7 linked regions of the Homo sapiens genome follow. The protein of the gene in region 6 interacts with the protein of the main gene of each other region in a pairwise test. Each region holds a gene or a part of one and is shown on either strand. Other genes may lie near its edges. The genes, in order: SLC22A2, TOM1L2, EPN1, EPN3, USP13, LAPTM5 and KIR3DL3.

What was found.
Region 1: the proteins of LAPTM5 (region 6) and SLC22A2 interact in a protein complementation assay, tested with the Homo sapiens proteins (one large-scale study listed by BioGRID).
Region 2: the proteins of LAPTM5 (region 6) and TOM1L2 interact in a two-hybrid assay, tested with the Homo sapiens proteins (one large-scale study listed by BioGRID and IntAct).
Region 3: the proteins of LAPTM5 (region 6) and EPN1 interact in a two-hybrid assay, tested with the Homo sapiens proteins (one large-scale study listed by BioGRID and IntAct).
Region 4: the proteins of LAPTM5 (region 6) and EPN3 interact in a two-hybrid assay, tested with the Homo sapiens proteins (one large-scale study listed by BioGRID and IntAct).
Region 5: the proteins of LAPTM5 (region 6) and USP13 interact in a two-hybrid assay, tested with the Homo sapiens proteins (one large-scale study listed by BioGRID and IntAct).
Region 7: the proteins of LAPTM5 (region 6) and KIR3DL3 interact in a two-hybrid assay, tested with the Homo sapiens proteins (one large-scale study listed by BioGRID).

The regions. Positions count from the first base shown.
Region 1 is NC_000006.12:160,255,968-160,260,286, forward strand, and holds the start of SLC22A2 (solute carrier family 22 member 2), read right to left. Parts: upstream 2,855-4,319; 5' UTR 2,791-2,854; coding exon 2,377-2,790; intron 751-2,376; coding exon 647-750; intron 1-646. UniProt on the Homo sapiens protein: Electrogenic voltage-dependent transporter that mediates the transport of a variety of organic cations such as endogenous bioactive amines, cationic drugs and xenobiotics. Functions as a Na(+)-independent, bidirectional uniporter.
Region 2 is NC_000017.11:17,878,130-17,881,941, forward strand, and holds part of TOM1L2 (TOM1-like protein 2), read right to left. Parts: intron 1,615-3,812; coding exon 1,498-1,614; intron 1-1,497. UniProt on the Homo sapiens protein: Acts as a MYO6/Myosin VI adapter protein that targets myosin VI to endocytic structures. May also play a role in recruiting clathrin to endosomes. May regulate growth factor-induced mitogenic signaling.
Region 3 is NC_000019.10:55,695,726-55,699,537, forward strand, and holds part of EPN1 (epsin-1), read left to right. Parts: 3' UTR 1-3,812. UniProt on the Homo sapiens protein: Binds to membranes enriched in phosphatidylinositol 4,5-bisphosphate (PtdIns(4,5)P2). Modifies membrane curvature and facilitates the formation of clathrin-coated invaginations. Regulates receptor-mediated endocytosis.
Region 4 is NC_000017.11:50,531,334-50,535,754, reverse strand, and holds the start of EPN3 (epsin-3), read right to left. Parts: upstream 3,021-4,421; 5' UTR 2,770-3,020; intron 1-2,769.
Region 5 is NC_000003.12:179,781,728-179,785,539, reverse strand, and holds part of USP13 (ubiquitin carboxyl-terminal hydrolase 13), read right to left. Parts: intron 3,802-3,812; coding exon 3,717-3,801; intron 1,493-3,716; coding exon 1,399-1,492; 3' UTR 1-1,398. UniProt on the Homo sapiens protein: Deubiquitinase that mediates deubiquitination of target proteins such as BECN1, MITF, SKP2 and USP10 and is involved in various processes such as autophagy, endoplasmic reticulum-associated degradation (ERAD), cell cycle progression or DNA damage response.
Region 6 is NC_000001.11:30,737,173-30,740,984, forward strand, and holds part of LAPTM5 (lysosomal-associated transmembrane protein 5), read right to left. Parts: intron 2,766-3,812; coding exon 2,637-2,765; intron 2,061-2,636; exon of another isoform or gene 1,984-2,060; intron 1,891-1,983; coding exon 1,768-1,890; intron 528-1,767; coding exon 432-527; intron 1-431. UniProt on the Homo sapiens protein: May have a special functional role during embryogenesis and in adult hematopoietic cells.
Region 7 is NC_000019.10:54,730,916-54,734,727, reverse strand, and holds part of KIR3DL3 (killer cell immunoglobulin-like receptor 3DL3 precursor), read right to left. Parts: intron 1-3,812.

The sequences.
Region 1 (4,319 bases), on a different chromosome or scaffold from region 6:
ACTACTAGCTTGCTGAAGACAAGACTCATCAGAGAGGCCTCTCGTCATCTCTCCAGGGACAATGATATTGCAGAGGTGGACATTTACCCCTCGTGTTGTAGGCAGACCCTGTTTCCCTTTCTTTAAGTTATGGCTTCCACATATATGGTCATATATGGCCCCAGGAACCCAATTCAGGACTCTTGCAATCCCACGGGTATTAGGGAGATTCTACATTGGGCCTGGTGCTGGGGGCTCCCAGCATATGCGAGACAAGCAGAGGATAGGATTGAGCTCAGAGGCCCTGAAGGCTGATGGCCAGGTGGATGGTGATGAGGCCAAAAAATGAATTGGGAATTACAAAAGGGATGAGATCATCTGTTACTCTCCCTTCCGACTTGAAGCTTCTGCATAGCCCCCATGGAAGATTTGCTGTGTAATGTTGAAATATCTGTCTATGACCCCAGAGAATTTGAAAATAAAGACATTGGTCATGGTTATCCAAGCAGCAGAAGAAATTTAAGATTGTAAAAACACCAGCATGAAGGCCAGGAGATTGTGGTCTGTGTGCTTGGGAAAGGATGGGATTCAAGCAGGGGCAGGTGCATCCAAGTGTTCTCCAAACCTTTGGGATTGTTTAAATTCCACCACAGGTGATTCAACCTACCTGTCTGCTATGTAGCCGATACTCATAGAGCCAATAAAGAATCCTACATTCACTGATGACTGGAATAGGTCCAACATCCAGGAGTTGGCACATACCAGGTTAAACTGCCAGCAGGGGAGAAGTGTTCCAAGTTGGGAGAGAAAGGAAATGAAATCCTGTTAGAATCCTGTTGGACATAACTCAGCTAGGGTACTCATTAAATATTCCTTGAATTGAACTGTATAGTTAAGTGGCAATAAGCCATTGTTTCTTGATCATGCCAATTTTCTTCTTCTTCTCTCTCTCTCTCTTTTTTTTTTTTTTTTGTGAGACAGGGTCTTGCTCTGTCACCCAGGCTGGAGTACAGTGGTGATCATGGCTCACTGCAGCCTCGACCTCCTGGGCTCATGTGATCCTCACACCTCAGCCTCCCAAAATGCTGGCATTATAGGCGTGAGCCACTGTGCCCAGCCTCAGTTTTCTTTACATAACCAAAAGGCTTGCCCTTCCATCTGGCAATTTGTCATGAAGCTAAAACTACAGCATTGGCTAAATCAGCTGAAACTGGGTAATTACTTATAGACAAATTTATTTTTTCCTTTCTAATTTCAATGCACATGCAGATAGGTGTGTGGACGTGATACAATGCAGGCACCAGGAGGTTGGGCCATTTAGCATCTCCCTGCTGTCTGTTTAATAAAAGGGGATTAGGAGTGACTGCTGAAGGCTGCTGCATTTGCTCTTATTTGGAATAAGAGGAGGTGGTCGGGTGGAGCAGGTGCTGGACCAGGTCAGGAGACCCATCTTTTAGGGCTAACCCTGCTAAGTTATTCACTGTGTGGCCTGGGGAAAAACCTTCTCTGCTTGGGGCCTCAGTTTCCTCATCTCTGTAGGAAGCAATGAGATTGGCCATGTGAGAGAGCCTCGGAGAGTTTGTGGTGTGAAGCCCATGAGCTGCCACATTTCCTGTAAATATCTGACCACTTTAGACCCTTCAAATTAGACTCTACCTACCCATCTGTTCACACAGAATATCTTCCCATTGTCCAAGCAGTCATTTTAAATTAAACTAGGCAACTGGCTCTCTCAGTATTTTCAGGTAACTTAATTCCCCTATTTTGCTTTGCTTTCAATAAAAGCAAGCTCCATTTTTTGTCTTTTTTTCTATTATATTTATTGGAATCAGGCTTCACAAATAGCTTTTGATGTCATCTGTAGTTTTTAACAAAATAATAGTGCCATAGCATGATCTCCAGCCCCAAATGATTTTATATGAACACTTTGAGGAAATTAAAGAGAAAAAATAGGTATCGAGAGAAAAGCACATCCTATCACACAGTCAGGCACAGTTCAGTTGAGTTCCACGGGCTTTCAGGTGTGTGTGGGCATCTGCGGGATGGAGGAATAGAGGGGGAGGTAAGGCTTCCAGAAAAAGAGGAGGATCCACAATATCCCTATCTTGGCAACATTTCCAGGAGTCCTAATATGCTTTGGCCTGTTCCTTATTGCTGGGACATGCACAAACTAGAATCATTATTGTCAGCATCTGAGGACGTTTTAACTAATCCAGTTATTCTCCAGACAAATTAGAAGCTGCATGTTCTCATTTGGAAACTAGGATTTTGTAAGATACATGCAGGCCAAAGAGATGTCCAGGCAGGGTTTATAAGAGCCGGGCCTTCCCTGCTTGCTTCCTTGAGAAAATCTCCACCATTTGCTTCTCCATCTGAGCCCTGAGCTCACTCTCTTACCTCGGTGACGATGGACGAGCCAGGCGTCTCGTACACCCAGCCGTCCCGGCAGGGGCCCAGTGGCAGGCGGCTCCTGTTGGTGTCCAGGCTGGCCAGGGGGTCCACGCAGTCGAAGGTGCTCTGGTTCCAGTCCACCTCGTAGCGCCTACACTGTCTTGGGGAGGCTTCGCCCGCAGGTCCTGGGCCCGGCACCGTGTAGTTCAGTTCCTCTGCAGGACTCCAGCCGCAGCGCAGACTCAGCTCGGCCACTCCGGGGCTCCGGCAGCGGTGGTCAGGGGTGAAGCCCAGGAAGACGATGCCCACGTAGATGGGCGCGAAGGTAGCCGAGAGCAGAGCCAAGAGGAAAAACATTTGCTTCTGGAAAAAGTGAAACTCCCCTCCATGCTCCAGGACATCGTCCACGGTGGTGGGCATGATCCTGCAGGCAGGAGGGCCCGAGGCTGCCCGACGTGCCCGGAGCGAGGCTGAGAGCGGCTGCAGCCAGCTCAGCACAAACCCTGGCCAGAAGTCAAAGAGGGGAGTTTACCTCTGCAAGTGACCAGCCTTCAGGGCAGGGCCTTTCCTTGGTCCAGCTGACTTCAAAGGTGCACCCCTCCAGCGGGGGTGCATGTCCTTCTGCACTTCCCAAATGCCCTGAGCTCACTCCCAGGATGCCTGTCGTGTTTATTATAACTGGTTCTCCACAGGCTTGTCGGTGCTCCACGCCAGCAGCACAAACAACCCGCCCTCTGTGTCCCACCGCAGGGAATCTGAGTGCTGGCCCATATCACAGCCCAGTAATCTTCCCGTAGTGCCCCGAGCAGCCAGGAACTTAATATACTCCTATCTCATGCGCACCGCCAGCTTTTCTTCAAGGCCCTATGGAGAAAACACACGTGTTTGGCCACAAGGCCCAGCGTGATGTGAACCAGGATCCGTGTCAGAACCCTGGTCCAGATTCGAAGTGGGTTGCAAGCCTGACTGCTGGGCTCATTCTCCAACCAACAACAAGAGCCGTCGGGATGCATGCTGGGGCTGCTTGTTTTGATGTTGTCCAGATTTTATAACTCTGCTTTTAAAAAGTGTTTGCTCCAATCTGGTATTCCTGCGTTTCAACCCTGAAGTGTCCTTCCCCTTAACCCATCTGGAGGGAAAGAGGAAAGTGTTTACGTCGCAGACAGGTCAAGTGTAAATGCAGGCAGGTGTGTCCAAGCCACTATCTTTGTGTCCTAGATTTTTCTGTCAAGGTCTGTTGGGGCTCAGAAATCCATGCCCCAAGGTGGAGGCCTCAGAAGCAAAGTCTCTCTCTCTGACCTTCTCCTGCCCTCCTGTCTCTTCTCTCACCCATCATTCTCCCCCGGGGCAAGCCATAGAACTGAGAATCCTTCTTCCTCAAAGCAGCTCGTGGAAACCAGACTCTTTTCTCCCCAAAGCCAGCCAGAAAGCCTAGAAATACCACTGTAACTTCCCCGCTGCCTTTCTGTGTAACAGTGGGCCGTAAAGAAATCCAGACCCGCATTCCAGAGGAGTCTTGTCCCCGGTGCCTGGAGGAAGGAGTGCTGCACAGAGGGGCCAAGACGGATCTGAACAGACAGGCCTTGCTGGGTTTTCCCCTCAGCCTGCGAACATGGGCTGCTGCCCTTTTTGTCCAACTACAGTTCTATACTGCCATCCAGTTTTCCCTGTATCTGTGGGTCTTCATTCTGAATGAAGGCTCCTGTGTCATGTAAAACGTGATCAAATAAATTTGTCATGCTTTTCTCTTGTTAACCTGTCTTTTGTTATAGGGGTGTTGGCCGTGAGCCTTAGGATAAGGAAGAAAGGGATCACCCCTTTCTGCTCTCACACATCAGGGGCATCTCTTTAGGATGATGTTGTTGCATCTAAATGCAAGACAAACAGGAAATTTGTCTTTCCTGGTGGACAAAAGGATTCTTAATACATCGTGATCCTGCCAAGTAGAG
Region 2 (3,812 bases), on a different chromosome or scaffold from region 6:
TGGCCGAACCTTCCTGCAGGCTAGGAATGGAGGCCAATGACAATGCATTCAAGGGAAGCCAGGTCCCCTGGAGTGTGGCACATATTCAGCTGGATCTGCTGAGCTGAGGCAAGCCTGGGCTGATGCAGGTGTGTCAGGAGTGAGGTCTGGGAACTAGGGAGAGGCCACTCAGGACTCCTCACTGGGGCTGGGCCAAGGGTACTTTTCTCAGCTTCAAGAGCAGGCTGGTGTAGTTACATGGAGACAAGTTGTTTCCCGGTCTATTTCCTGCAAAAAGCTGCAAGCTCCAGGGACCACAGCTCATGCACCTCTGTGCCCCTAGGACTGTGTTTTGTGTCAGGCCTGGAACAGGTCTCCACCCACCCTCACCCCCATAAGAGCCGATGGCTTTGGAGTAGGAAGGGGGCACAATAAGCAGCAACTTGGGACCAGGACAGGGCCTTCACAGGCGGCAAGCATGTGCCAGCAGCAGGGTAGAAGGTGTAGCACTTGGGGACCAAGACTGACAACGGAGGGCCAGACACAAATGGCAGTATCAGCAGCAGCAGCAGGTGTATCATGAGAAACTCATGCCAGGTTGCTAAATCAGTCTGGCTCCTGACCTGTTCCCTCAAGCATCTTGCCTCCCATTGAAAAGTGTGTGGGGCCTTGCAGTTCACAGCATCCTTCTTCCACCCTCCAGAAGGTCACTGCTTCTAAGGGCAGTACCACTGACATTTTCTGCAAATGCCAGGGTCATCTGAGGCTGGGTGTGGTGGAGATCTGGGCACTGGCTCTGGACCTGGCTGCCCTGGGAAACAGGCCTGAGGTGGGGGCCTTGACCCTGGTTTCAGGGGTAGACTGCAGGCCGCCCACTCCTGGACCCCATTCTGCCATGCCCCCAGATCCATGGGCTGTCCAGAGGCGGGGAGGCCAGTTTGCAATGGCAAACCACAATATGCCTGGGAATCCTCAGTGTTAGGGAAAAGCATGGGAGCATCACACTTCATCTCAGTCTCAGGACACCTTGGGGGTGAGGTGCCACTACAAGGGCTCCTGTGCACAGTCAAGGTTGAACAGGCCCTCCTGCAAAATGTGATGTTGAGGGACCAAAATACAGAAATAGTACAAGCTCAACTACATTTAAAATAAACCTACAAAAAAGTCAGAAAGAAAATACATCAAAGCACCTACAGTGGTTATTTACAGATGCTTGGGTCAAAGAAAGTTATTTTCTTTTCTGTGCTTTCTTTTTCTTTCTGTGAGCATGTATTCTACAACTGGCATTTTATAATCAGGAAAAAAATGTTATTAAGGAAAATAAAAAAGACAGACAGTGGTACTGGCCTCTGCCTGTCCGTAGGCAACGTGAGGCTGCATGTGTGCTCACATGGACTATCAACAACAGGGCCACTGGACCTGTCCCGCCTTGCCGCTGTGTCCCCGGGTGGGATCCTCCAACAGTGTACGGTGGAAGAGCTGCCACCACAGGCCAAGTGCTTCTGAAAGATGACTCACCTGCAGCAACTCCAGATCAGATGAATCCTCCTGTCCAGGGACCATTTCTGTTAACATCTCAGACATGACTTTTGTGTTTCCTCGAACGACGTCCAGTTCACTCCGCAGCCTGGCAATCTGGTGGGGGCCACGAGGAAGGAAAGCAGGAAGGAAAGGTCAGTCAGCCTGCACTTGCAATATCAGAATCAGCTTGCTCCTAGTCTAGTGACAATCCTTCTCACTGGGAGATCTGGGTTGCCTTTCTGAGTGCACACTGCAGAGGCCACCTTCTCATCTCCCTCTGGCCTGCCTGTCAGCTCTGAGAGAGCTGAATGGGCCCTGCCACCAACAGTCTGTTGTGCCTCTCTGACTGTGACACGAAAGCAGTACCACGTAGTGAAGGGCTCCGTGTCAGGAGTGCACCAAGCTGGCTCTCCGTCTCGGCTCTCCCACCACGGGAACTTGAGTAGAAGCTGAACCTCTCAGGGCTTCCGTTCCTGCTCTTTAAAATCCAAGTGCAGGAGGGCAGGAGCTCTGAGATCCCTTCAGAGCTGAGATCCTATTCTACAAAGCTCTGAGTTATAGACTCTGCTCCTAGGAGTTTTACATCTAAACACTAGGATCCCTCTGAGAGGCTGGGCAGTGTCAATAGCACTTTTCTGCTGCGGCAAGAATGAGAGAACAGGGGAAGACGACAGGGGAGACACCTTCCCCACCCAGCTCCCTACATGGTAACACAGCCCCTTGAAAAATACCCAAGTTGCCCATCAGCGATCCCAAAGCCTGGACCTGGGCCAAGGCCCAAGGCTCCTCTCCAGCAACAGAGACATCATACACTTTCTCCCCTTGCCCTCAGTCCTGTGCCTCAGATCTGCCCCTTCACTCCCTCAACCCCCTCGAAGGATCTGCAGAAACCACAGGGACCTTCCTTGCCCACAGTGAAATATCATAGAAGAATCTGCATAGAGGTGGCTACTGGTCCCATCACTCAGTGACAAGAGACCAAATAACGCTGGACAGAGGTCAAGAACTGCACAGGACACTGGAGGGAGCCCTGGAAGACTCAGCAGCAACATCCAGAGCCGGACCTGAGCCTCTCTGAGCCTTCGTTTCCTCACCTACAGAAAGGTGGCACTAACCTCACCAGGCTGCTGTGAGTTTCCCATGCGGCGCCTGGCATGCAGGTATGCTCTCTACTACACACATACGGCCCTTGTTCCTGCTCAAAGGTCCAGAGAGAGGAACTGTAATGTCATTCTTCCTGCACTGTGACCCAGCTTAAGTGACAACTTCTCTCCCCAGTGAAGCCTTTTCTGACTCTCCCCACCCCATCCTGAGGTAGAAGCAACCACTCCCGCCTCCTCAGGTTCCCACTCGCTGTGCCATCTTCCACTATTGCAGCTGTAGCAGCCTCTCCTGTGTGGGTGGGCTCTCTCAGCAGACCTTTAGCTTCTTAGGGCAGGAACTCAGCTGGGTTGAGCTTTATACCCTCAGCACAGAGACAGGGACAGGAGACCTCAATCAATGGTCTACCAGGGAGATGGTCTGGGTCCTGAGAGGCTCTTGTTAGCCTCTGGCTCTGCCTGGTGGATGATCCAGGGGTTTTCTTCAAAGTCTTGGTAGAGAGAAGAGGTTTCTGGCTAGGAAGGCCCAGGAAGGCTATGGGCAGCCACCCAGTAGACTCTGAAGCCCTGGGTCCTCTTGGCCAGGCTGGGTGCTGACCTGCCTACCTCTGCTTGCATTCTGCTCTCCAAGGGGCAACATGCCTCAGGGCTCCTGTGCTACCTATGCCCAGACCCTGCAGACCCAGCATCTTCTGGCTACTAGGAGGGCCTTCCCAAGCACCTCCCACACTTTGAGTCGGTGAAGGGGCTCAGTAACTGTCCAACTTCAAACATTTTCTGCCTTCCCTCAGAGCAGGAAGGGCACAGTTCTGCCCATAGAAGCAGGGCCAAAAGCCAGAGACCTTCTTTCCCACAGCACTTGGGTAGCCACAATGAGGACCTCTTCCATCTGCCTGTCAAGCCCACAGCTGCCTGGTGGGGTAACAAATCACTTGTTCTACTGATGGGAGACCGGGGTTAAATGTCCTGACTGAAGCCTAGAGTGAGCAGCAGAGCTGGGGGCTCACACCCAGGCCCTGGGGGCTTCAAGTTCACTCCTCCTGCTCTCACCGTACTCCCTGCTCAGAGCTAGCAGGGAAGTGTGAGGAACACGACACAACACTGCCATCCCTACACACACATTGCTATCCCTACACACACATTGCTTGACCCCTCTGCTTCAGTGAGGTTCCACAGTCATGACATTGTCGCAAATAGTAAATAAGGATTTGG
Region 3 (3,812 bases), on a different chromosome or scaffold from region 6:
TGGCAACTTTGGGAATAAATGGCAATTCCCACGGGCTTGGCACTCCCAGATTCCCATCTGTGATTTCGTGTGTCCCCCAGAGCCCCTTCATCCAGGGACCCAGGGCTCAGGTCACATCTCTTTCTCGGGGGTGGCTGGCAACCAGCCCCTCTGTCTCAGAAGCCCTGATTTCCCTGACCCTCCCAGGTCAAGGGATGGCTGGGTTGAGGGTGGACTGTGCGAGGCCTGGCGGAGCTGTAGCCCACACAGGTCCAGGTGGTCGGGAGGCCACTCATGGCCAGACGCTTCCGGTGCAGGAGGCCTTGCTCTTGTGTTGAGGGGACACCAGGATGAGGTCAGAGAGTGCACTGGGGTTCAGGGAGGAGAAGAATCCTGAGAGATGGCACATGTGCAACACAGGTCACCGTCGCCATCGCCCGGGCCCACCGCAAGCATCACTAATCCATCCCTGCACTCCTGGAAAGCCGGGTCAGCCTCTGCCGGCTGAGCTGAGTGGACCACCAGGCGCCTCCTGGTTGTCCTCTGTGTGCTGTTTTCCTCTGTGTGCTCTTGTCCTGGGCTGGACCACACCTGGTGAGACTATCCGGGAGAATCCTCGGGCCGCCTTGTGAGGGGGGTGTTGCTGTCATCTCCAGGGCTAGGTGACAGCTTGTTGCAGGCCCCACAGCCAGGGCCTCAGGGATGGGGATCTGGCCATGTCTGTTTTAAGCCGAACAGGCTGTTCTTCCATGTGGAGTCTCCCTCCGTGATCCCCTGGGGTCAAGTCCTGACGGCTGGGTTCGCTCCCTCAGTGACTCCGACAGCTCTTGTCTCAGAGGTGCTGGGGTGAAGGCTGTGTGGGGCCAGGCCCCTGGGGTCAGACTTCTTGCCCCTTCTGCCCGGGGGACGCTCTGGGCTCAGGGTGGGGCCAGACAGCTACATCACAGGGACACTTGTTATGGGTCGGGGTCCAGGGAGCACCCAGCCAGTGGAGTGTTGGAGGCCACTGAGAGGGACATGACTGCGGTGTCCGAGCAGCGTCGTGGCCACCCTGTGTGCCCACTCCCTGGTGGACAGACCTACGTCACCTGGGGATTGCAGAGCAAAAGGAGTGCTGTTGGGGTGATGTGAGGTTGGGGTTCTGTTTCTTGCTGTGAATTGGGTCATGACCTGTGTCGGAGCGTTCTCTGGCCTCCACTTGCCCCTGCAGACCAGGGTGTCTGGAGGGTTGTCGGGGGCTTGATGGAGGAATTGCTGACCACACCATGCAGGAAGAGGTGGGTCCCAGGGACACAGGAACTTTGGGGTCAGCCGGTTCCAGATTCAGTTGCAGAGGAGCATCCCCCTTGCTTAGCCAGGGAGGGGAAGCCCTCTTCTCACACCCGGCCTGGGTATGTTGTGGGAGAGTCATTTCCCAGGAGGAAATGGGGACTGTTACCGGGGGAGGGGGTGCTGTCCCCAGGCAGCAGCAAGCGTCCCTTACGCTTGGGCTGTCCGAGACCCTGCTGCTCTAGGCGGTTGTGATGGGGGAGCCCCACAGGGCACAGAGAGCCAGCTGAAGGCGGCAGCTCTGGGTGGGATCACATGGAAAGGGGAGGCGAGCCGAGCCTCCCTCTTGCCAATCTTGGTCTCCCCACAGGGTCATAGCTCCTGGGCCCCTCACTTGTCAGACCCTCCATTCACCAAATTAAGGATAAGTTTCACGATTTCGCACTGCGGAGCCTGCACTCCCTTTCTCTTCAAAAAAGCTGAGGACGAAGATAAAATGATACAGTTGGATTAGTCCAGTGGAGGGGTTAAAGGTGTGAGGCTTTAATTCTCCCCACCATTTCCTCATTTGGCAAAACAGAGAAGACAGGATTGAAAAACAAGACAAAAACCCAGAGGCTTGCACATAAATTTGGGGCTTAACTACAGCATCTTCGGCATCTTCTTTTCCCTACAGTGCGAATTACAAAGTAGCACCACAGATCTCGTGTCTCCTACTTTATTCCTCTTTCTAGAATATTCCAGCCACCAAAGTGCTCAGCAGGAGCTGCTGTGTAGGAGTCCCCCATGAGGCCCAAGCACCTGAGCTTAGTGACATACACGGTTGAACGCTGGGAGAATGCTGGGAGCCTGCTGTTGTCCCCGATTGAGGGCTCCCCCCACTGTGTGTGTATCACTCTTTCTACAGCAGATGTGTCTCTCTCCCCACAGTGGGATGGCGAGCTTGTTAAATGGCCGTGAGGAAGACTTTATTCAGGACCATCGAGACAGGTACAGGTACCATCAGTGGATGGAAAATCACTAAGAGCAAACCTCAGGGGTCCGGGGGTTTTCGGCTAAACCCACCTAGCAGGATTCTTGCTGAAGGCAGGCCAGGGTGATCAGAGGTCACCTGGGGATGGTGGAGGCTGAAGAAGCCTATCAGATGTGAGGGTGGCGGGGGTTGGGGGGGATGGCGGCGGGGTTCATTTGCTGAAAGGATTTTACAAGGGCATGCACGGATGGGCCTAGGAGGAGGTTCAGATCCCTCAGGTTTGGCTAAGCAAGAGTCATGGTGGTGCTCCCGGCTGGCTCTCAGGAGCAGATGTGCTTCTGACCCGACGTCTTCCCCCAGAGAGGGCTGAAGTGGAAAAAACCCCAGAATTTCTCCCTGGGACAGGTGAAGCGATGGGGCGTGGGACATTCCTGGGTCTCGACTCTGTTCAGGGCCTAGGGGTTGGGTGGGGAAGGCACTTGAGGGAACCTTCCTGGAGCCCGTAGGAGCTTCATCCGAGCTCCTGGGTCACCCCGCCCACCAGAGTCCAGGCCCACCAGAGTCCCCTGCCACCTGTGCTCACCCTAGCCTTACCCCTCGCTCTACTCCCGCCCTCGCCCTATCCTCGCTCCTCGCCCTACGCTTGCCCCTCGCTCTGGAGCTGCGATGCCAGCCTCAGGGCTTTCAGTCCTGCCTTGATCTTTTTTTATACTGAAACTCAATTTTACACACACAAACCCACTCCCAGCCAGCCTCTGCCTTTTGCCTTTTCCTCATGTTCTCATTGAATAGGAAGAAATGCCCTTTTTTTTCCCCCCTAGAAGGAGTCTTGCTCTGTTGCCAGGCTGGAGTGCAGTGGCACGATCTCGGCTCACCGCAACCTCCACCTCCCGGGTTCAAGCGATTCTCCTGCCTCAGCCTCTCGAGTAGCTGGGATTACAGGTGCCCACCACCACGCCCAGCTAATTTTTTTTTGTATTTTTAGTACAGACGGGGTTTCACCATGTTAGGATGGTCTCGATCTCCTGACCTCGTGATCCGCCTGCCTCGGCCTCCCAAAGTGCTGGGATTACAGGCGTGAGCCACTGTAGCGGCCCCCACCCCATTTCATTTTTTATTTTTTTATTATACTTTAAGTTCTAGGGTACCTATGCACAACGCGCAGGTTTGTTACATATATATACATGTGCCATGTTGGTGTGCTGCACGCATTAACTCGTCATTTACATTAGGTATATCTCCTAATGCCTTCCCTCCCGCCTCCCCCAGGCCCTTAGTTTGTGCTGCTCTGCGTTGGTTTTCTGCGTGTGCTAAAAGGGGAGGGAGAGTTTCTGTGCCCATTCCCAGGCACCTTCTTGCAGCCGCAGGCATCTCCCCCACACGTGCTTCTAGCTTCCCGGGTGTGGCGTGAGCCATTGCGTCCGGCCAGAAATGTTTTATTTCTTGAGAACTTGTCTGTCTCTGTGATGACTGTGGGTTGTCCAGCTCATCCCTCAAGCGCCATCCTGCCAGGCCCTTCACTGTGGTGAGAAACCGGCCTACTCACATCACAGGTGCCCCTGGAGTTTCTCAAACTGCAGCCCAAGGATTG
Region 4 (4,421 bases), on a different chromosome or scaffold from region 6:
CTGAGCCAGGCACCATGCCAGGCACAGAACACACGCCTTGGTCCACCCACGTTCAGTTGAGAGGGTACAGAAAATCACAGTCCAGTGTGGGAGTGCAGAGCCGCACAGGAAGACCCAAGCCAGGAAAATCAGGGGAGACTTCCTAGAGGAGGTGGTGACAGAGCTGAGATCCAAGATCACAAGGGAAGAGTAAGGAGGAGTGAACCAGCAAGTCAGGGGAGGGCGGCTCAGAAGAAATGCTATGACCTGGGCCAGAAGGCAAGAGAGCAAGTATCGTTTGAGGAAGACTGCCCCTCAGAGTTCTGGCCACTGCCAACACTCCTGCATGCCACCCCCACGTACACATGGAAGTGTTGAGGCCAGAGAGGGGATGGGACCTGCCTGCATCATATGGCACGTAAGTGGCAGAGCCTGGACTACCATCCAGGACTCCAGAAGACTAATCCAATTCTTATTGTCAGTGTTACCCAGTTTGGTCATTATTTCATCGGATTGCTTTACTGTCTCAGTCCCACCTTCTCAGCTAGAATGGAAGCTCCCTGAGAGTAGGAACAGTCTGGGTTCTCCAAAGCCCCAAAACGCTGGACACATAGTGGACCTCTGGTACCCCAGCAGGGAGAAGAGCTGGGCCAGCCCAATTCCCCCCAGTAGCCACAGGTCCAGGCTATCTGCTGAATACAACTCCAGGCCCAAGGTCCTCCCAAAGGCCCTTTCAGAAACCAAAAGAGGAATTCCCTGACCACCACCATTCCTCCCACACTAGCACTGGTGTGTGCATGCACACACACACTGTCTGGGCCTGCAGAGCCTCCACTTCACCCGTGAACTGTCCCCCACCCACCAAACACCTTTCGGCTCCACCCTCCATCCCAGCCCGTGCCCCAACTGGTCCCCAGGCTGCCAGAAGCAGGAATCTGAAGGAGACTGTCCTCTCGCACCCGATTCCACGCTCCTTCCACCCCAGCCCCGCCAGTGCTGGGCTCAGTTCAAAGCAGCCCCACGCTTTGAAAACATGCCTTGGCAGGTTTTGTTGGGGGCCCAGAGAATAAGATACCGTGGGAGTGGGCGAGGTGGAGAGTGCCTGGCCCACAGCGCAGCCTACCTTTTGTCTGCTATCTCTTTCCTTCCAGCGGGTCGTGGGCCTTCTGTGGGAATGCCACGGCCACAACTTGTTTAACTCCTGCCCTCCCCCTTGCTAGTGACTCAGACCTGCCTTCACCTCCCCAACCCGTGGCTGGGGGTGGCAGAGTCAAGATGGGAAATAATGTGCACCAAAGCCCGCCCAGCACACGCCCCTACCGGCTGGCCGCTGGAACTAGCAGAACCAGTCGGGCACTGTGACTGCACCAGAGCCCTACCTGGACCTGGCTGCCCTGGCCCTCCGGCCTGGCCTGTGTGGGGGCACCAGCCTCTGGGAGGGGACTCTCGGTGTGGGCCCAGCGGCCCTGCCTGGACCTTTCTCACAGAAGGTGGGCATTCTCTGCACACCCCTGCAGGGGCTGGGGGGAAGGGCGGGGCCAGAAACATGGGGAGGCACCTTGATTTTCCTTCTCTGGAGTTTGAGGGGACAAGGTGAGGCTGCCCAAGCACAGAGAAGGGAGGAGGAAAGGAAGAAGCCTGCCCAAGCGCAGAGAAGGGAGGAGGAAAGGAAGAAGCCTGCCCAAGCGCAGAGAAGGGAGGAGGAAAGGAAGGAACGCGGGAACGCGGGAGGGAGCAGCTGGGAGCGCTGCCAGCAGTGTTACAAGCAAAGGGTTTTATCGAACACGATATGCCCAGAAATAAAAGGGAGTGTAACAGAAACCCAGCGGCCGATAAGGCGGTGGCGGTAGCAGCAGCAGCCCTGGGCAGCTGGGTATGGAATTACTGCAGTGACCTTGAGCCAGACCCTGTCAGGTGGAGGGAAGGGCACAGAGAGGGCAGGGCCTGAGAATTCAGAGATGACGAGAGGGCAGAGGAGGGAGGAAGCTGAGGGGATGGGAGCAGGGCCAGCAGGCGGTGGGATGGGCCACGGGGCACGGAGTATCAGCTCTCTCCTGCATACAGGGTCCCAAGGAGAACTGCGCAGTAGGGAGGGGCTGCTCTTCTCAGGGCCTGCAGGATGGGGGGATCTGGAGAGTTTCCCAAAAGTCAGGACCGAAAAATGCAGATCGCTCATCCCCAGCAAGGGTTTCGGAGAGATGGAGAGAACCCAGATCTGTCCAGTCACACGTGCATGAGTTTGCGTAAAGTCTGTGCACCCACCAGCCCAGCCCACACCCTCTTCCCGTCCTCTGCTAAGGTGGGCTCCAGCCCCTGCCTCCAAGTCAGATCCAGCCTGAGCAGTGGGGAATGACAGTGCCCTTCTTGATGCTGTAAGGGACAGGGGGTGAGCTTGAACTCTAAGCTTCTGGCCACTGTAATAGCTGCATCCCGGGAGCACAGAAGATGGGGGAGGGGGGACTGCCCTGAGGCTAGAGGTGTGCATGAGGGGCTGAAGAAGAGGAAACAGCAGAGATGTGCAGAAGGAGTCTGTGGGGAATGCCACCAAAGATGCTAAGATGCCACCAAAGATGCTAAGTCCCAGGATGGTTGGGGAGGGGGCCCTGAGTCCCTTTTTGGGGGCGGCAGGGAGGGAGGGGTGGCAGGAAAGAAGCCTTTAGGTCCTCTACAGCTCAGCCTTCTCCCTCGCACCTGGAAAAGAGACTAAGCCCCAGAACCACTGTTTGCTCCCCACCAACCCCCGCCTTCCATGCCGCCACTGCCAGGGAGGGGGCCAGGGAGGAAGCTTACCTCCAGTGCGGGCTCCCTCGGCCCCAGCCCCAGCCCGAGTAGCCTCTGCGGTGACCCTCCGACCTGTGCAGCAGCGGGACGGCACAGCCTCGGGAGCGTCTCCAGAGCCATCCACCATGGACCCTCGTCCCAGAGACCCACCTGCTCCCAGGAGGTGCAGACCCCTCAGAGGGGCAGCGGCAGGGTCCCTGGAATGGGTAGCAGCTCTTCCCGCGTGCGTTTGCCTCCTAGCCAGCGCCAGGCAGCACTCCGAGGAAAGTTGCTCAGCTGGCCCGGCAGGTCTGCCTCAGCAGTAACAGGACACAGGAGGAAGTGCAGGGCAGGTTAACCCCTTCCTGCTGGCCAGGCAAGTGGTGCATTGAGAGGTGGGGGGCCTGCCTGTTGGCCGCCCCCAGGAAGTGCACATCTGGAGCCAGTGCTGGCGACCTGATCCCCTCTGCTTTGAGTTAACCCTTCCCCTGCCTCTTCAACAGGAAAGGAGGGGGGCTCCAACACCCCCACCACACCCCTCCCCTTCCTCCTCTGGGCCGGGAGGACATTAAAGGAGAGGGCAGGGACATTCCCTGGGGCTGGCTCTTTGGTGGAGCCCCCGTCTTCTCGTCTTCTTGGGGAGGAGAGCATCAGGACTCCAGCACAGCCCCCTCCCTGCCTTTCCCACACGGAGTCAGATCCTTCTGTCCATCCTCCCCCTCCTGCATCTCAGCTGGAGGATGCCTGAGGCCCACTTAAGGATGCCCACCCACCCAAAAACCAAAGTTGTTCTTCAAACTCTGGGAGCCTGGAGTGCTCTTCACACAGGGAGCCCAGCCCCAAATGGTTATGACTGACAGAAGACAATGAGGGGCCTGAGTTTGAGCTGACAATACCTTTTTTTCTGAGAGCCATTTCTAGCCTGTTTCATGTTCCCCTGAGCAAGGGAGGTAGCATGAAGATCAGCAGCTGTTTTTAAGGCAGAAAGATGGCTCAAGGCCAGATAGTTTGAGATGAGGAGGGGGATAAGGCAGACTAGACCCCGAAATAACAAGGTGATGTGGCCTCTAGAGCTGAAGAGGTGTGGTGAGCATGATCTTCAGGGACTGAATTGGGGCCCTGGGACCCAGCTGAAGAGGGGAGATGGCAGGGAGCCAGGTCCCATGGGTCTAGTTCTACTCCTCATCTCACACTTTGTCATACTTGGTGATGACACTTCGGGAAGACCTGGCTCCAGGAAGCACGACCCTGAAAGTGTGGGCCAAGGAAGCCAGAGGCAGGGACTACCAGAGGTGACACACTGTCCTGTCACCTGACTCCTTGTCTTGCTACCAATCTGCTCCTCTGCTTGGCATCCCACACATCACTTCCCCAGCTATGTCTGTCTGTCCTCCTGCAGGAGGGCTCTGGCAGCTGGCAGGAGGGGATCTGAGGGCAGGTGGAACATGGGAGGACCTGGATCAGGAGCTGACCTAGCCAAGATCCATCATGCAAGACACAGAGGCACACGGAAGTAGTAGAAACTTGAAGGTTCTTTATTGATTTATTTATTAACCCGTTTTCCAGAAGGTTGCTTGGGCCCGAGAGTCACCTGCAGAGGCGCAAAGCCTCCTCGACATTCTTTATGGGGCTGAGCTCATCAGCCAGGACCATCAGGTCAGTCACCAGGGTGTCCAGCAGCC
Region 5 (3,812 bases), on a different chromosome or scaffold from region 6:
CTCTGAAATAGCAACTCCAGAGACTCTAGAATTTGGTACGGACCAGTAGGAAAATTATGGAAATTATAGAATGCTATCATTCCACTTTTCATCACGTTGGAAACTCTAATCTAATCCCAGGTTGCAACTAAAATGCTGAAATAACCAAAATGGAAAGGATAGTCTTTCATAATGTTGTATAAAGTTTCTTTGCATCTAAAATCCTTAGTGTGTCCAAGATCACACTGTTGGTCACATCAGACAAGCAATGAAGGCAAGTCAGAAGGTGATACACCAAAAAAAGGCAGAGATGAGACTCTGGCCCCAGAAAAACAAGGAAACGGAGGCAGATAAAGAGCTCAGAGATGGGAAAATCACAGACAAATTTGGGGCACTTGACATGACTCCAAAGAGTTATCATGTGAGATGGTAAAAAGAGATTAGCTATTTTTACTAAAAATAAACACCATACCTTTTGGGGAAAGGGCTGCTGAGAAACAGAGAATTTACCTACCTTTGACAAAGTACAATATTATGCTGCTGTGGGCATCTAGCATTACACCAGCAAATGTCCCAAACCCAAGTGAATTCTTGACAGCACTTAAAGGCATAACTCAGCCCTTTTTACTCCTTAAAAATCTAAGTGGGGAACTAATCTTCTCGAAGGTTCCTGAGTCATAGTTTTGTTAAAATATTTACTTGCTTTTTTCAGATATGCTTAATATCAACTGTTCAGACTTTAAAAACCAACTTGTCACAGATTTTCTAGTGGACTCACTTTTCTAGTAAAAGTCTCACACTCTCAGTCAGTCTCACACACATTCACACAATCGTATTATGAATTTTAATGTGACAAATTAAAAATATCTTTCATTGCAGAGGCTCTATTATGGACAGAGCATAATATCTACATGGATACATCAGAAATTATTGTATGTCATGAAAAAAATTATGTCACAAATAAAGCCCCACCCAACTGCTGATTTTCTATATGAAACACAAGTGGGCTTTTCATTTGTTGTGGGTAAGGCCACACCACTGGCCACATTATTTGGTTTCTCCAGAGGCCACTATCACTGACCCCCAAAGCAAAATAGAGGGCTGGGGGCACATCCCCATTTTTGATGTGCTGATGGCAGATCCTCCACCAGCAATATGAATACTTTTTTTGTTTTTAAATATCATCATCTTTTTGAACATTTATAAAAACTATCTACAATATAATAGTGTATCATCACTAATAGAAATTTCTTCTCAGTTCTATTTCAGAAGGTGTCAACTGATCGTGCTCTTTAAATAAACGATAAATACCCCATATATTCCTTCATGTCTAGTTGTTTCAACTTCTTCTTCTTCTTTTTTTTTTTGGCAAATTAAAAAGGCGTATGGCTTCTTTTCGCCAATTTTTATATTTGAGGTTTAGCTTGGTATCCTGCGGTAAAAGTACATGTAGCCCAGGTCTTTAGGGGGCCTTTCTGAGGCACAAACTTTGTGGTCATTGTAAATCACCCATCTGAAAATAAGACAGAAGCATTTGATGGATTTAAGTCAGTTCCAGGAAACTTTACACAAAGAAGTCACTAAATCATATGGCGCACAACACTTAACCATGATGTTTTAAGGTACTATACTCAAGTTCGTTGTATAAAAAGGGACAGAATGCTGGTAGGGAATCACAACTGCTTTTTTTTTTTTTTTTTAAGAGACAAGGCCTCATTCTATTCCCCAGGCTGGAGTAAGGTAGCACAATCTGAAGCTTCGAACTCCTGGGCTCAAGGGATCCTCTCGCTTCAGCCTCTGGAGTAGCTGGGAACACAGGCACATGCCATCATACCCAGCTACAACTGCTTTTTGATTCTTAAGCTCCATCAAAAAGTAGTTACTAAAATGTATCAGGAACCTCCAAACATTTTAACCTTTGATCCCATAACTCCCTTTATAGAAATCCATAGATAGCCTGAGAAATTGAGTCAAAGAATTATGTACAACAATGCTTATTTCAGTCTTAGTATAAAACTAGCTTAAAACCAGAATTTTAAAAAAATCCATGCAGTGAACTATTATAGAACTATTAAAATTTCTTCAAAGAATATTTGGCAAAGTGAGAAAATAACCATGATATAATATGAAATGGGAAATTACTGGTTAAAAAATTGTATGCACTCTGCACATACTTTAAGCTTTTAGTTAAGTTGTAAATACGTGTGTTTATTTATATGTAGTATGTGTGCATATAGACATATATATACTTTCTTCCAGTGAGACAATAAAACAAAGAAAAGTATATCAAAATGTAGACAATGGTTATTGTTAGGCTTCCAGGGTACATATTCTTTGTATATTTTTATATTTATAAATTATTTACTATGAATTTTATTGCTTTTAAAATTATAATTAAGCTATTTTTCTTTTAAAAAGCATTTTTATTTTATTTTCTTTGACTTCATTCCATAAAGTGTTTTTTAAAGCGCTATCGTGTTTGTAATAAAAACAATTCACCACAAAGATTAAGTCCCAGCCGGGTGCGGTGACTCACACCTGTAATCTCAGCACTTTGGGAGGCCAAGGCGGGTGGATCACTTGAGGTCAGGAGTTTGGGACCAGCCTGACCAACATAGTGAAACCCCATCTCTACTAAAAATACAAAACTAGCCAGTCATGATAGCACATGCCTGTAATCCCAGCTACTTGGGAGACTGAGGCAGGAGAATTGCTTGAATTTGGGAGGCGGAGGTTGTAATGAGCTGAGATTGTGCCATTGCACTCCAGCCTGGGCAATAAGAGTGAAACTCCATCTCAAAAAAAAGAGATAAATTCCTGTGCTCAACTATTTTACCAAGTTAAGAAGACAAAACTAAAAAGACACACCACAGAAGAACACAATGGAGTCCAGGTGGGAAATGGCCACTCCTGCAGTGGGAGCCATGGAGCAAGAGGCCACCCTCAGGCATTTCTCCAGCATCCACATGGCCTGAGCACTGCCCTCAAGCAGAAGTGCCAACCCACAGGCTACTCAGTTTGGAGTTGCAGGAAGGGCACCAGTAGGTCCTGTAGGGATCCAGCCCAGGGAGAAGGTTCTGAAGAAAGCAGCAGCCTTTCATTCCACAACTGTCTCATTTCCGGTTCACTACACACTTAACAATTCTACTTAAGAAGGCTGAGAAGCCAACTGCAAGGCTGTAGTAAGGCAAAGCACTGAAGGTTTAGAGCTGCCAGATAAAACACAGGTTACCCAGTTACATCTGAGTATCAGGTAAGCAATAAGAAATTTCAGTAGAAGCATGCCCCATATAATATTTGGGACATAGAATATTTGAAATTTATTTATACTAAAAAATTATTCATTATTTATCTGAAATTCAAATTTAATAGGGCATCCTGGTTTTTCCTGTCTTGTTTCCTTTTGTTGGCTAAATATGGCAATCCTAGGGAGGTTCCAATTACAGCATACATTCTGCTGCAGGATGCATCTTTATTTTGGGAGGTCACCTTGGTATGATAGTTGAAAGTGGCTTTGAATATCAGCTCTCACACAGCTACTTACTAGCTAAGGTCAAGCTATTCAGCCTCCCTGAGTCTCGGTGTCTTGATGTGCAAAAGGGCGTTAACAGTATACCCTTTACAAGACCAATGTGAGAACCAAATAAGATAACATACAATGTACCTAGGAGAGTGCCTGGCATATAGTAGGTACTCAATAAATCACAGCTAACATTTACCTTCTAAAAATGACTCACCTTCCTTCCTTTTTGATATGGCAAATGTAATGACCACTCATTGTGGATGTTCCCATGTGACTGATGAATGCAAATAGCTCATATGCTGTGAAAGAG
Region 6 (3,812 bases):
CCAAACCTCTATTAACATAATCTCAGGTACATTTTGATGCCTGAATTACATAAAACTGTAACACAGGCAAAACAAGACTCCTGCCCCTGAGGCCCAGAGAGAAGTGACTTGCTGAAGACCAACCACGCAGCTAGTGACAGTGGGGCTTGGATTCAAACGCAGGCCAGTCCAAATCTAATTCCAGACAGCTGGAATTAGACATCTGAACGCAGGTGGCCTTTACGGATTCACATGCCCTAAATGGGCTGTCTCGGAGGATCCCAAGTAAAGTCAGAGGAGCTGGCATGGGAAAGCAAGAGAAAGGAGCTAAAAGCAGGAGAGGAGGCATGGAGGACACATGTCCCTGCCTTCTAACAGCTTGGCATGGGCAGGCCTGGGCCCAGCACAGCCTCACCACCCCTCCCAGAGCCGCAGGGCAGGGATCCACTCACCTTGAAGATAAGGACAGTGATGAAGGCGATGGAAAAGATGATCATCATCTTGATGAACTGGTTATGAGGCATATCCTCCTGGCTGGGGAGGTAATTCTGCAACAGATTTGGGGGCCACATCAATGTCTCTGGACATAAGGAATTCCAACAGCACCCACACATCCGGGAATAATGATCCCACCCTCCACACACACACGAGCACAGCGTGGCACAGCCGTCACCTTGGTCGACCGCCACAGCAGCCTTAGGAAGCAGGTGCTACCTTCAGCCCCATCCCACTGACGGGCAAACCAAGAAAAGCCAAGTGGCTACTATCTCCAGATCTGCTTCCCAGGCTGGCGCACCGGCCCATCCCCAGCTGGCAGGTGTCAGCTGCCCATGGGCCACACCTATGCTCTTCTCTACAAGATCATTTTGGCTGACAGGGACCACCTAATCCACTAATACCTGGGAGGTTACATTCCCTCCCCTAGGGGCAGCTTGAAACCAATGACTGATGCAGGGGAACTCGCCCTAGGTGAGACTGCCTCTGTGGTCATTTGCAAATATTACCACACATTCTTTGAGACGCCTCCCTTCTAAAGGTGGTGTTTATTTCCTCTCCCCTTGAGTGTGGGCTGGACTTAGCAACGCACTTCTAACTAACAGAATGTGGCAGAAGTGATAGAAGTCTTAAAAGACACTGCCTTTCCTCCTTGCTTATCTCTTACATCACTCCCGCAGGGGAAGCCAGCAGCCATGTCAGGAGAGCACTCAAGCAGCACTACTACAAGTCCACAGGATGAGGAATTAGGCAAAGAGCCCACGCCCTGTGAGTGAGCCACCAGGAGTTCATCCTTCAGATCTAATCAAGCCCTCAGTTGTCCACAGCCCCAGGTACCATCTCTGGTGCAGCCCCACCAGAGTCCCTGAGTCAGAAGAACCCAGCTAAGCCACTCCCAAGCTCCTGATCCTCAGAAGCTGTGTGAAATAATAAATGTTTATTGCTTTAAGCCATGATGCTTAGAGATAATTCATTAGACAACAATAAAAACTGATATTATGTCTGTGTTGCAATTCACATGCCAAAGCCCTCTCTGGGATCATGCAGGGCTGCTCCTACAGCCACATCTTTGCTTCTTTGCTTGGCTTCCTCCTTTTCTCGAACCTGCCTTCCTCACTCCTGACAAGTTTCTTCCTGAGAGGGCTCCCTCAATAAATCACCAGCACAAGAATCTTCCTCCCAAGCTCCAACTCCAGGGAACCTGGCCTAAACCACAGACACACAGAGACGTGAAGTAACCTGTTCAAGGCCACACAGCCAGCAAATGGGCATGGTTCCCTGCCCCAGACTCACCATGTGGTTCATGGACTTGAAGTTGAGATAGGTGGGCACTTCCATGTAGGAGCTGCAGAGGGTCAGGATGCTCAGGCAGAAGTCCAGCAGCTGCAGCGTCATCAGGGGGAACTTGGAGGAGCTCTGGGGAGGACAAATACAAGGAGGAGGAATGAGGAGCAGCAATTAAAGTCCCAGTTACTGAGCGGCACATAGTAGGCCCTCACTTGAGAGACCGTCTCAGCTACAGACATCAGTGACTCTCGTCCCCTGTGCACAGAGAGACATGAACACACAGATGTTCATACCAAGAGCTGGTGGCAGACCCAAGACTAGAACCAAGGTCTCCAGACTCCCGGGCCAGGGCCCTTCCATGATGTAGCCCCCCGGTCTCTTCAAGGACAACAGTTGGGGAGAGTGAGAAAAGCAGGTTTGGGAGACTGTGTCCTTGACTGGCAGCAGCCCTCAAGCCACCCCACAGTGGGCGCTCACTGGCATGAATCATCCTTCTCTTCCTTTCTTCAACTTGGTTCCAAAGAAGAAATAATACTGGGGGCTGGGGGCTAAAAAGCGCACATGTCCTTTCCTCAGGTGTCAATTCACTCCCAGCAGCACTGACTGAGTGCTGACCATGGGCTGCACCCCCAATGTGTGTGTTCCTCATGTAACCCTCATAAGGCAGGCTGATGAGATGTGATTGCAGGTACATTCCACAGAGGAAGAAACTTGGGGCAATGTGGAGGGACTCAGAGACTGGGTCAAGACACCAGCCAGGAAGAGGGCTCCTACCCTCCCCAGCCTGAGCACAGGGCCCGTGTCTGGTCCCCTCCCATCTCCCATGCCAGACCTGGGCTCTGCTGTCCGGTGAGAGGTGGGGGCTGGGTACTCACAGCACGGCTCCGGGAGGCCAACTTGAGGTAGGCGGGCAGCTCAATGTAGGAGCCCAGCAGGGTGAGCAGGCACAGGAGATAGTCCATGATTTGCAGGGACAGGAAGGGCAGCAGGTACTTCTCCCGGTTCTGAAAGGTAGGCCCAGCACCGTCAAGTGTCCCCTGCATGCAGCCAACACTCCGCCACCCAGCCTGATATCCTCATGCATCCCCTTCCCACCCTCTCCCAAACCTTCCCTGCCCTCCTCAGTTGAGGTCACCTCCCTCTGAGTGACACTCTGGGGACAGGGAGTGGATAAGACCCAGGCCCTGAATGAGAGGAGTCTTGGTGTCCCAGGAGACGTAAGGGAACCATCCCCATCTATCAGGGCTCAAAGAGCAGGATTTGACTCAATTTGCTCACAAGAACCCAGCAAGGAAGGGCTTTGTGCACTTTTTACAGAGGAGAGGGGACCAGAGAGGACTTGCTGGAGGTGGGGACACCAGGGCTAGATCGGGGAAGGAGACTAGGAGTGAACAGGAGGGAGGGGCGGGGCACTGGAGGCAGAAAGACCAACATGAGTGAAGGCCCGGAGGCAGCAGAGAGCCCCTCCCCCCCACCCCCCACTCCCCACCACGCCCCGCATACAATTGGACCTTCCTCCACCAGCCACTCCCAGGGGTCCAAAGTCACAGTAAGAGGCCCTGCCAGGAAGAGGCTGAAGTCCCTCTTCTTCAATTGAAAGCAAGTGACCACCATGACCAGTATTCATTCATATGCTCTCACAGCTGGGGACAAAATCACTGCAACAGTGGTTTCCTGGTGTCTCATGTGGTCGTCTAAAATCACTCAGGAGGCAACCAGAACAATCTTGACTGATCTCAGAGTCTTCAGGGACCACCTGCTCCATTTCTCCATTTCTCTAGCTGAACCCTTTGAGTTTCTGCACAAGCACCCACAGCCACCCTGCACAAGGCAAACGGCCTCCCCAGGCAGCATGGGTTCCAAGACAGAGTGAGTGTTAGCAAGGGGAGTGGGTGCTGGCATTTGAGGCAGGGTGGACGCATTCCAAACCAGCACCAAATCATCGCCCCACTCCTCCGGCCCTGCAAGGGCCAGGCCCCTGTCTGCACAGGAAGGACCCTCTTTCTGGATCCTACTCCCATGGCTATGTGGTGAGGCCCTGGCTTCCTGCC
Region 7 (3,812 bases), on a different chromosome or scaffold from region 6:
GCTTCCAGTACAGCCTGCAGAACTGTGAGGCAAACACATTTCTTGTCTTTAGAAGTTACCCAGGCTCAAGTGTTCCTTTAGAGCAACAAAAATGGACTAAGACAGCAACGTCCTGAGATCAGGAGGAACATCCCAGAACAGCCTGGGCTGTCTTCCTGTTCTTCCTGGAGGAGGACGTCATGCAGTGCTTTAGCTGAGTGCTTCCTGTGGCTCCAGGGTACAAAACCCAGGCTGGGCTGCTTTTTGATTTCCCCCAGATACACTGCATATGGGGTGACTCCACATGTCTCGAGCAGCTTTTCTGAGCCTTGAGGGACTGGCTCACATTGAAATGTAGGTTTCTGTTGTCACTCGCTGCTTATCTGTTAGTAATGAACCTGCCTGTGTAATGTGTTCTCTGTGTGTTCTGTCTCCCTGGAGTGACGGTGAGTGATAGGAATTGGTATAGGCCCAGGTGCATTCCAGGAGGTGTTTAGAATCTTCTCTGGGAAGACTGGATTGGGATTGATACACAGCGAATGTGCTTTACAGTTTCTACCACCACAACCCTCTTGACTCAAAAAAATTACATTCTCCAAGAAAAGAAAGAAAAAATGAAATCAAGATAAAAAAAGTGAAGTAGAACTGACTTAAATCAAACAGCCATGAAATAATGATGTAGCCCAGGAACAACATGCTACTTTTTGTGATCTGCTGAGACATATATTAGGCTGCTATTCCACCCGAGAAGCACGGGGAAGGACCGCCCTCTCCGTCGTTTATTGTTTCAATACAGCCTGTCCTTCTGTGAGTTAGTACGAAATGTGACCAGGGGCTAGTGCTGGCACTGGTCTCTGAGTCCAAGATCTGAGCTCACTCCAAAGAGTATTAGTGTTTACCTCCCCATGATCTATCTGTATCTCCATAGGTGATTGGAAGTAGAGATGAATTGGGGGATTTGGGTGAAGGGGCAAGTTTTATGCCATGAACAGAGCACGTTCTCTATTCCAGGACCTGTGCTGGTGGGTTCAGGAGGCTTTCACATTTTCCATATGATCCCAAGCTCACAGAAAGCCAAATAAGGAAGAGGTTTAACCTGATTGTTTAATGGATAAGATAAAGGGTCAAAGAATTAAACACAGAGAAATAGAAAAATGATGGTTGGTATCCAGTTGCCTTTGTAATTTCTGTGTGTCATAATTATGTATGTTTTATTTTTATTTTTTGAGACAGAGTCCCCCTGTGTCAGGCTGGAGTGCAGTGATGCGATCTCAGTTCAACCTCTGCCTCCAGGGTTGAAGCCATTCTTCTGCTTCAGCCTCCCCAGTCGCTGGGATTACAGGCAGGTGCCAATGCACCAGGCTAATTTTTGTATTTTTAGTACAGACGGGGTTTCACCATGTTGGCCAGGCTGGTCTCAAACTCCTACCCTTAAGTGATCTACCCGCCTTGGCCTCCCAAAGTGTTGGGTTACAGGTGTGAGCCCCCATCCACAGTCTTGTATATTATATTATACTAGGTCCCTTCATTTGCACCACCCCTCATGTGTCTATCGCTCCTCTGCCAGGTATTGATTTAGATGTAGAAAAAAAACACATCTCAGAAAGAAATTAATGAAACAAGGATTAAACTACTAGGAAAAATCAAACCCAGCAAGCCCTCCCTGCAAATGATTCTACCTCACAAGCATAGCTTATATCCATCTTTCATTCATTTAGTGTGTAAATCAACCCTACGTTTCACCAGTGGGGCGGGAATTGCCTTTTCCACGGTCTCCTAGATTCCAGTTACGCACCTGGGCCTCCCTTATTTTCATGTCGGTCACTGTTAATCAGGTAGGGATTCCTAGTTAGCTCTGAGTTGAATCCAAGGGCTGTGAGTATCAAAAACATGCTCCTTGTTCCTCCTTAGTTTCCTGTGTACCCAGTGTGCTCTCCATCTCTCTACAGTTGTCTTGTCATTCTCCCCATCTCATTCCCAGCATTTGAGGCAGAGCCTCTTCCTTGAACTAAGAATGTTTCCACCTTTGTGCCTTCACGGCTGAGAGCTCAGTGTGGAAAATCCTTCCGCCAATCTTCCAAGGGTTGAATCCATTTTTTCCATTAAGGTCACAAATATTATCTGATCAGTGAGACCTTCTCTGTCACCTGAAATTATATACTCAGCATTATCTATTACTTATTTTAAATCCTGGCTGGGCGCAGTAGCTCTCGCCTGTAATCTTTGCACTTAGGGACGCTAAGGCGGTGGGATCACTTGAGATTGGGAGTTTGAGACAGCCTGCACAACATGGTGAAACCTCATTTCTACTAAAAAAATATACCAAAAAAATTAGCCGAGTGTGGTGGCGCACAGCTGTAATCCCAGCTACTCGGTAGGCTGAGGCAGGAGAATTGCATGAACCCAGGAGGCAGAGGTTGCAATGAGCTGAGATTGTGCTACTGCACTCCAGCCTGTGGAACAGAGAGAGACTCTACTCAAAAAAAAAAAGAAAACAAAAAACACACACACACACAAAAAACCCCAGATTTGGTGCACAGATGCTTCCCAATGGATCATTCATTTATTGGTACCCTTGTGCATTCATTCTCTGCCCTCGCATTTACCCATCTGCAATATCAGCGTCCCAAGAGCAGAGGCCAAATGCATCCTGTTTACCATTTGTGGAAGGCAGGAGAATGCTGCCCCACCCCCAAAATGTCCCTGTCTTAGCCTCCATAGCTTGTGAATATGTTATTTTACAGGAAAGGAGGAATGAAGATTGCAGATGGCATTACGGTTGCTAATCAGCTGAACTTAAAAAGAGGGTACGCTGGATGATTTTAGGGAGATTGAGATGGATTATCTTGGTGACCCCAATAGAATCCCAAAGTCCTTAAAAGATGAGGAAGAAGGCAGAGCAGGATTCAGAGAAAAAGGTGTGGGTAAAGAAGAAGAGTCTGAATGATGCCATGTGAGACGTGACCAGCCTTTGTGGGCTTTGAGGAAGGAGGAAGGAGGAAGGGGACCAGGGGCCCAGGAACGTGGGAGCCTCTAGGAGCTGGGAAACGTTAAGGAGCAGATTCTTGCTTGGAACCTTAAAAAGAAATCCAGCCTTACTGTCCCTTTGATATCAGCCCAGTGAAATGCAGTTCATACTTCTGAGTTACAGCACTGTGAGATAATTAAGAAAAACATGTTTTCATCCACGAAGCTTGTGGAAATTTGTTATGGCAACAATAGGAAAAGATTCCACACTGCACAGCCTGAGCATGGGGCATTGGCTGAACGAGTGAGTGAGTGGAAGTGTCGTGTGCATAAATAAGCTAAATTCTCTCTTACTGCACGTCTCTTGCTCTGCTGAGTCAACCAGGGTTGCATCTGGTACACTGCTGATACGAATGTAAATTAGTACAGCCATTACAGAGGAGAAGAGTATGGAAGTTCCTCAAAAAATAAAATGAGGTCGGGCACAGTGGTTCATGCCTGTAATCCCAGCACATTGGGAGGCCGAGGTGGGTAGGTCACTTGAGGTCAGGAGTTGAAGAGCAGCCTGGCCAATATAGCGAAACTCTGTCTCTACTAAAAATATAAAAATTAGCCGAGTGTGGTGGTGGGAGCCAGTAACCCAGCTACTTGGGAGGCTGAGGCTGGGGAATCTCTTGAATCCTGGAGGTGGAGGTTGCAGTGAGCCCAGATGGCGCCACTGCACTCCAGCCTGGGCAACAAGAGTGAAACAGTCTAAAAAAAACAAAAACAAAAACAAAAACCATAAAACAAAATGTAAAAAGACACTTCCAGAGGATCTAGCAATTCCATGACTGGGTGTAAACCCAAAGGAAAGGACATCAGCG